Homo sapiens: one gene and its partner. The protein of the gene in region 2 purifies or fractionates together with the protein of the main gene of each other region. This does not show direct contact. Each region holds a gene or a part of one and is shown on either strand. Other genes may lie near its edges.

What was found.
Region 1: the proteins of ZNF786 (region 2) and NEMF purify together in Homo sapiens (affinity purification with mass spectrometry; one large-scale study listed by BioGRID and IntAct). This does not show direct contact.

The regions. Positions count from the first base shown.
Region 1 is NC_000014.9:49,832,165-49,835,819, forward strand, and holds part of NEMF (ribosome quality control complex subunit NEMF), read right to left. Parts: intron 2,286-3,655; coding exon 2,199-2,285; intron 1,333-2,198; coding exon 1,259-1,332; intron 114-1,258; coding exon 43-113; intron 1-42. UniProt on the Homo sapiens protein: Key component of the ribosome quality control complex (RQC), a ribosome-associated complex that mediates the extraction of incompletely synthesized nascent chains from stalled ribosomes as well as their ubiquitin-mediated proteasomal degradation.
Region 2 is NC_000007.14:149,077,143-149,080,797, forward strand, and holds part of ZNF786 (zinc finger protein 786), read right to left. Parts: intron 3,576-3,655; coding exon 3,449-3,575; intron 1-3,448. UniProt on the Homo sapiens protein: May be involved in transcriptional regulation.

The DNA of each region.
Region 1 (3,655 bases), on a different chromosome or scaffold from region 2:
AACAAACATCCAAAGCAAATTGACCCATGCCTATATGCTTACGTCAGTATGTCTTCAACTGGTTTATCTGCTTCCAAGCTTGGTTTTATTTCTCTTTTCTGAATGATATATCCCTACAAAAATGCAACATTAAAATCATTCCTATTCATAATTAACAAAGATTTACTTCTTTTTTTTTTTTTTGATACAGTCGCGCTCGCTCCATCACCCAGGCTGGAGTGCAGTGGTATATTCTCGGCTCACTGCAACCTCTGCCTCCCGGGTTCAAGCAATTCTCATGCCTCAGCCTCCCAAGTAGCTGGGATTACAGGTGTGTGCCACCATACCTGGCTAATTTTTGTATTTTTAGTAGAGACAGGGGTTTTGCCATGATGGCCAGGGTGGTGTCGAACTCTTGGTCTCAAGTGATCCGCCCACCTTGGCCTCCAAAAGTGCTGAGATCACAGGTGTGAGCCACTGCACCTAAAAATTTAGTTTCTGTGACTGATATTAATTTGCACCTAATCCAAAGGTTTACTTTCTATGACTGATATTAATTTTAATTTTCTATAAATAGTTATGCTTTGAAAAGGGAAGAAAAACACTCATAAGCTACTAGGTAATTCAAAAAATATTTAATGGTTGGGAGCTGTAAATCACAACATTTTTGAAAAGGGCTGACAAATGAAAATGTGCTTCTCTATCTGAAACTAAAGAAATAACTGTAAATTCCTCAACTTTTCTGAAGAGCCGATACTAACCTGACATTGTACTTTCTATAAAAGATAGGGAACAGAAAAAAACTTATAAACCAACAAAAACTTTTAAAACACTATCCTGGGCCGGGTGCAGTGGCCCATGTCTATAATCCCAGCACTTTGGGAGGCCAAGGCAGGCGGATCACTTGAGGTCAGGAGTTCGAGACCAGCCTGGCCAACACGGTGAAACCTCATCTCTACTGAAAATATAAAAACTGTCCAGGCATGGTGGCACGTGCCTGTAGTCCCAGCTACTCGGGAGGCTGAGACAGGAGAATCACTTCAACCAGGGAAGCAGAGGTTGCAATGAGCCAAGATCATGCCACTGCACTCCAGCCTGGGTAACAGAGCAAGACTGTCTCAAAAAACAAAACAAAAAAACTATCCTGGAATAAGCATATTACAGATAACAATTTTCCAAATTAAAATAAAATGTATATATAATGATCCTTTAATGAACGTTTAATTTCTGAAAACCCAAATAAATCACAACAATATATAGTAAGTATACATGGTGCTACCTTCCCACTGAAGTTGGATGTTGTTTTCATATAGTCTTCTGCTTTCTGCAGAGAAACAAGTACTTTTTCAATATCTAATGGTGGGGGAAAAAAAGGAAAAAAGGAGTGCCAATCAAGTGTCAATTAACCGTGGCTAAACAACTATGTAGAAAAACAGGAAAGTGCTTACAAAATAATGTTGCGTTCAAGAAAATTAGAGATAGTGATTTCATGTTTATAACCAGTATATGTGGATATATGGTTTCATTTTGAACAGCCTGTTGTCCAAGTAGCTTTTATTGAATCATCCACCTTTCCCTCCATGACCTGAAAGGAACTTTGTTCATAAACTAAATTCCCATATTATTTCAAATTATTTTTGGAATCTTTATGCTATTCCTTCTCCAAAAACTTACAGTTTTAATTACTATAGCTTCATATTTTAATCTGTGAAGGGTTACACAGACAGTAATAAATCATTACTAGTATTTTCCAGAGTTATCCTGAACATTTTCACATGCTTTTGCTCCATATAAACATCAGAGTCATTTTATAAAAACAAACAAAAACAAAACACCACCACCAGCACCTGTTGTCATTTTATGAGTGCACTGATTTAGTATATTGCAGAAACTAAAACATTCACTAAAATCTCATTCAATTTTTTTTTTTGAGAGTGGTGATACTTGTTTTTGTGGGGTTTTTTGAGATGGGGGTCTCACTCTGTTGCTCAGGCTGGAGTGCAGCTGTGCAGTCACCACCCACTGCAGCCTCAAACACCCAGGCTTAAGTGATCCTCCCACCTTAGCCTCCCAAAGTGCTGGGATTGCAGGCATGAGCCAGTGTGCCTGGTCAAATGTTTTTCATTCTAGAACCACCTGCTCCCTTATTACTTTCCCAGAAAAAATTTTCATAGTTTAAAAAAAATGAAATAAATGAAAAATGTACCATGCAGACATACCTTTAGTTTCAAGTTTTTCATCCACTTTGACATTACCCGAGAATCCATTTTCTAAAAGACAGTGTTCAATGAGAGCTGGTCCATAGGCTATAAATGCAGAGGATATTACTTTTAGTATTTTCCTATAAATTCTTTTTTGTTTTTGTTTTTTGAGATGGAGTTTTACCCGTCGCCCAGGCCGGAGTGCAATGGTGCAATCTTGGCTCACTGCAACCTCTGCCTCCCACCTCCTGCCTCAGCCTCCTGAGTAGCTGGGATCACAAGCACCCACCACCATGCCCAGCTAATTTTTGTATTTTTAGTAGGGACAAGGTTTCACCATGTTGTCCAGGCTGGTCTCGAACTCCTAACCTCAGGTGATCCACTCACCTCAACCTCCAAAAGTGCTCAGATTACAGGTGTGGGCCACCATGACCTAGCCTAAAATTTAACATTCAAAATATAGCACAAATTTATTTCCCAATATCAATGATCTACTCAATAACAGTGGCTGGTGAAAACAATAAGTTTACTTATTTTGAAGTGTTACTTAGAAATGACAATTCTAGTTCTTAGACTGGGTGCGGTGGCTCATGCCTATAATCCCGGCACTTTGGGAGGCCAAGGCAGGCAGATCACCTGAGGTCGGGAGTTGGAGACCAGCCTGACCAACATGGAGAAACCCCATCTCTACTAAGAATACAATAAATTAGCCAGGCGTGGTGGCACATGCCTGTAATCCCAGCTACTCAGGAGGCTGAGGCAGGAGAATCACTTGAACCCGGGAGGCGGAGGCTGTGGCGAGCCAAGATCGTGCCATTGCACTGCAGCCTGGGCAACAAGAGTGAAACTCCGTCCCCCGCCCCACCCCGCAACCAAAAAAAAAAAAAAAAATGACAATTCTAGTCCTTAAAGAAATTTGAAACTACAATTAACTTACAAAAGTCAGTGCAAGTTATAGGAATTTAATGGGCTTCAACCACAATGAGGATTTATCCCTGGAATGCAAGGTTGGTTTGGCAACCAAAAATTGGTTAATATAATACTCCATATTGATAAAATAAAGGAAAAGAGCCATATATCATTTCAATAGATGCAGAAAAAGCATTTGACAAAATTCAACACTAATTCCTAATAAAAACTCTCAATAAACTAGGAATAGAGGGAGCATTCTCAACCTTATAAGGACACCTATGAAAAACCTACAGCTAACATGATAATTACTGGTGAAGGACTGAATATTATCCCCCTAAGATCAGGAACAAGGAAAGAATATTCAGTCTCACACTGCTATTCAACATTGTACTGGAAGCTATAGCTAGCACAATAAGGCAAATTAATTAATAGCATTCAGATTCTAAAGGAAGAAGTAAAGCATCCTTATTCACAGATGACATGATCCTGTACCTTAAAAAATCCTAAGGAACCCACAAAAAAACCCTACTAGAATGAATAAACAAGTTTATCAGGTTTGCAGG
Region 2 (3,655 bases):
CGTTCCATCTTGTTCCATAAGACTGTCTTCATTATTCTTGTCTTGGTTCTCCCATGTTCTTTAGGATCAGCTTATCAAATTCCGCAGAAAGCTCTATTGGGATTCTGACTGGACTTGCTTTGAATCTATAGATTCATTTGGGGAGAGAATTGACAGAAGGCAGAAAGATCCATGTAACTGACTATTAGATTAAGAAGATGGGTGGCCAGGCGTGGTGACTCACGCCTGTAATCCCAGCACTTTGGGAGGCCAAGGCGGGTGGATCATGAGGTCAGCAGATCGAGACCATCCTGGCAAACACGGTGAAACCCCGTCTCTACTAAAAATACAAAACAATTAGCCAGGCGTGGTGGCGGGCGCCTGTAGTCCCAGCTACTCGGGAGGCTGAGGCAGGAGAATGGTGTGAACCCGGGAGGCGGAGCTTGCAGTGAGCTGAGATTGCGCCACAGCACTCCAGCCTGGGCGACAGAGGGAGACTCCTTCTCAAAAATAAATAAATAAATAAATAAAAGAAGATGGGTGTTCTCCTAGCCGGCCACAGTGGCTCACGACTGTAATCCCAGAACTTGGGGAGGCCAAGGCAGGTGGATCACTTGACCTCAAGAATTCGAGACCAGCCTGGGCAACATGATGACGATGATGGATAATCACAAGGATATGATGAAAGCATGAGAAACAGTTGTGGCCCAACAGCGAAACAAATTAAAATGTAGCATAATTTTGTCTTTTTTTTTTTTTTTGAGATGAAGTCTCACTGTTGCCCAGGTTGGAGTGCAATGGCGTGATCTCGGCTCACTGTAGCCTCCGCCTCCTGGGTTCAAGTGATTCTCCTCCCTCAGCCTCCCAAGTAGCTGGGATTACAGGCATGCACAACCACACCCAGCTAATTTTTGTATTTTTAGTAGAGATGGGGTTTCACCATGTCGGCCAGGCTGGTGTCAAACTTCTGACCTCAAGTGATCCACCCACCTCAGCCTCCAAAAGTGCTGGGATTACAGGCGTGAGCCACCACACCTGGCCAAAATGTAGCATAATTTTGAACAACTGATAAGAATGAAAAAAAGAGAATCCATTTGATCTTGATGCTTGGAACATTCTTATTAGGCTGGCACAGGGTTAATGGCATAGAATTATATTTTTGCCTCTATAGATTCATTTACTGTAACTGATTCTTCAGTAACAATGAAAATAATGTAATGTTTTCAGTTATATGTTTTAGAAACAATCCATACATACAGCCTGCAAAAGTTAACTATGGTAGGCCAGGCACGGTGGCTCATGCCTGTAATCCCAGCACTTTGGGAGACCAAGGTGGGTGAATCACCTGAGGTCGGGAGTTTGAGACCAGCCTGACCAACATGGAGAAACCCCGTCTCTACTAAAAATATAAAATTAGCAGGGCGTGGTGGCGCATGCCTGTAATCTCAGCTACTCAGGAGGCTGAGGCAGGAGAATTGCTTGAACCCAGGAGGCGGAGGCTGCGGTGAGCCGACATGGTGCCATTGCACTCCAGCCTGGGCAACAAGAGTGAAACTCCGTCTCAAAAAAAAAAAAGTTAACTATGGTAACAGAACAGAATATAAATATTAGAAACTTTGCAATATAAAGGAAGTGGTATGGCTGTTGTCAACTGGCAGAAGAGATGAAGAGAAATACTAGAGAACTAATTATCTTTATATACTGAATGAGTCAGATGAAAATGATGGAATACAATCTAGAATCTTAAACATATTATTTTAAATTATAAAGCTGACCAACAGAGGCACAAAAACTATCAAAAACTGGGGAGAAGATGATAGAAGAGGGATTGTATAAGTGAACTAATGCCTAATTTTTCATAGTAATTAATTCTGTCTAAACTCGATAAATCAAGTTATTGGAAGCGTATTTAGATTGGAGGAAGCCACTTTAAAAACTAAAACAAAAATGGTTAAAAGTGGTTGCCCTCACGTGGTTAACTGAATGTGGAGATAAGAATGAAACGGGCTGGGCGTGGTGGCTCACGCCTGTAATCCCAGCACTTCGGGAGGCTGAGGAGGGCGGATCACGAGGTCAGGAAATCGAGACCATCCTGGCTAACACGGTGAAACCCTGTCTCTACTAAAAATACAAAAAAATTAGCCGGGTGCAGTGGTGGGCGCCTGTAGTCCCAGCTACTCGGGAGGCTGAGGCAGGAGAATGACGTGAACCCGTAAGGCGGAGCTTGCAGTGAGCTGAGATCCCGCCGCTGCACTCCAGCCTGGGCGACGGAGCCAGACTCCGTCTCAAAAAAAAAAAGAATGAAACAGGAGACTTCGATCTTTCACTTGATGCTTCTCTGAACAGACTGATTTTTTAAAAATGATATTTGATAAATGAAATATAAAAACCAAATAAGCAAAAAGGACATCCAATACCATACCCAGGCAGAGACAGCTACTCTTTTTTTTTTTTTTTTTTTCCTTTTTGGAACGGAGTCTCACTCTGTTGCCAGGCTGGAGTGCAGTGGCGTGATCTCAGCTCACTGCAACCCCCGCCTCCCAGGTTCAAGTGATTCTCCTGCCTCAGTCTCCTGAGTAGCTGGGACTACAGGCGCCCGCTACCACGCCCAGCTAATTTTTGTATTTTTAGTAGAGACGGGGTTTCACCATGTTGGCCAGGATGTTCTTGATCTCTTGACCTCGTGATCCACCTGCCTCGGCCTCCCAAAGTCCTGGGATTACAGGCGTGAGCCACCGCGCCCAGCAGACAGCTACTCTTAAAACACTTCAGGCCAGGCGTAGTGGCTCACGCCTGTAATCCAGCACTTTGGGAGGCCGAGGTGGGTGGATCACGAGGTCAGGAGATTAAGACCATCCTGTCCAACATGGTGAAACCCTGTCTCTACTAAAAATACAAAAATTAGCCGGGCATGGCAGCACGCACCTGTAGTCCCAGTTACTCGGTAGGCTGAGGCAGGAGAACTGCTTGAACCCGGAAGGCAGAGGTTACAGTCAGCCAAGACTCCAGCCTGGGCGACAGAGTGAGACTATGTCTCAAAAAAACAAACACTTCATTGTACACCCTTCCAAAATAGCTTTTCTGAAGTATTTAGACCCCACTGTAAAAGCTGTGAGGTGGGGACATCCTAGGTTAAAGATATACAGAGCACTTCATGAATGTGCGCTAGGTGTGCTCCTATGTGGACAATCATGGCATCCTGATAGTCATGACTAAAGGCCCCTCATAAATAATATTTAGTCACCCGGACCACCTTACATTGTTCAAATATTCTCATGTAACAATGTCTACCCTTGAGTAAAGATTAACAATGTTGACAAAAGTATTAACAATAGATTGCAGGGTAAAAATACCCTTCTGAGTTAATTTCTGAGAAATCTTGCTACCTGAGAAACAGGAGCATCAAGTGACTGTGACCCCTTACAGGATCCAGTTCCATGACCTACCCACAAAGGTGAACAGGTCTTACCTAGAGAGACGAGAGTCTCATAATTGCTTCTCATCACATGCTTGTAAAGTTCCTTCTGCCATGCCTCTAGATCCTGCCATTCTTGCTCGGAGAAATAAATAGCAACATCCTCAAAAGTCAGAGGTAGCTGAAATTGTAGACATAAGACATATGCATTCATGGTTGCTTCAAAATGACTCCAGCTCCTTCTCCTTGTTAATTTAAAAG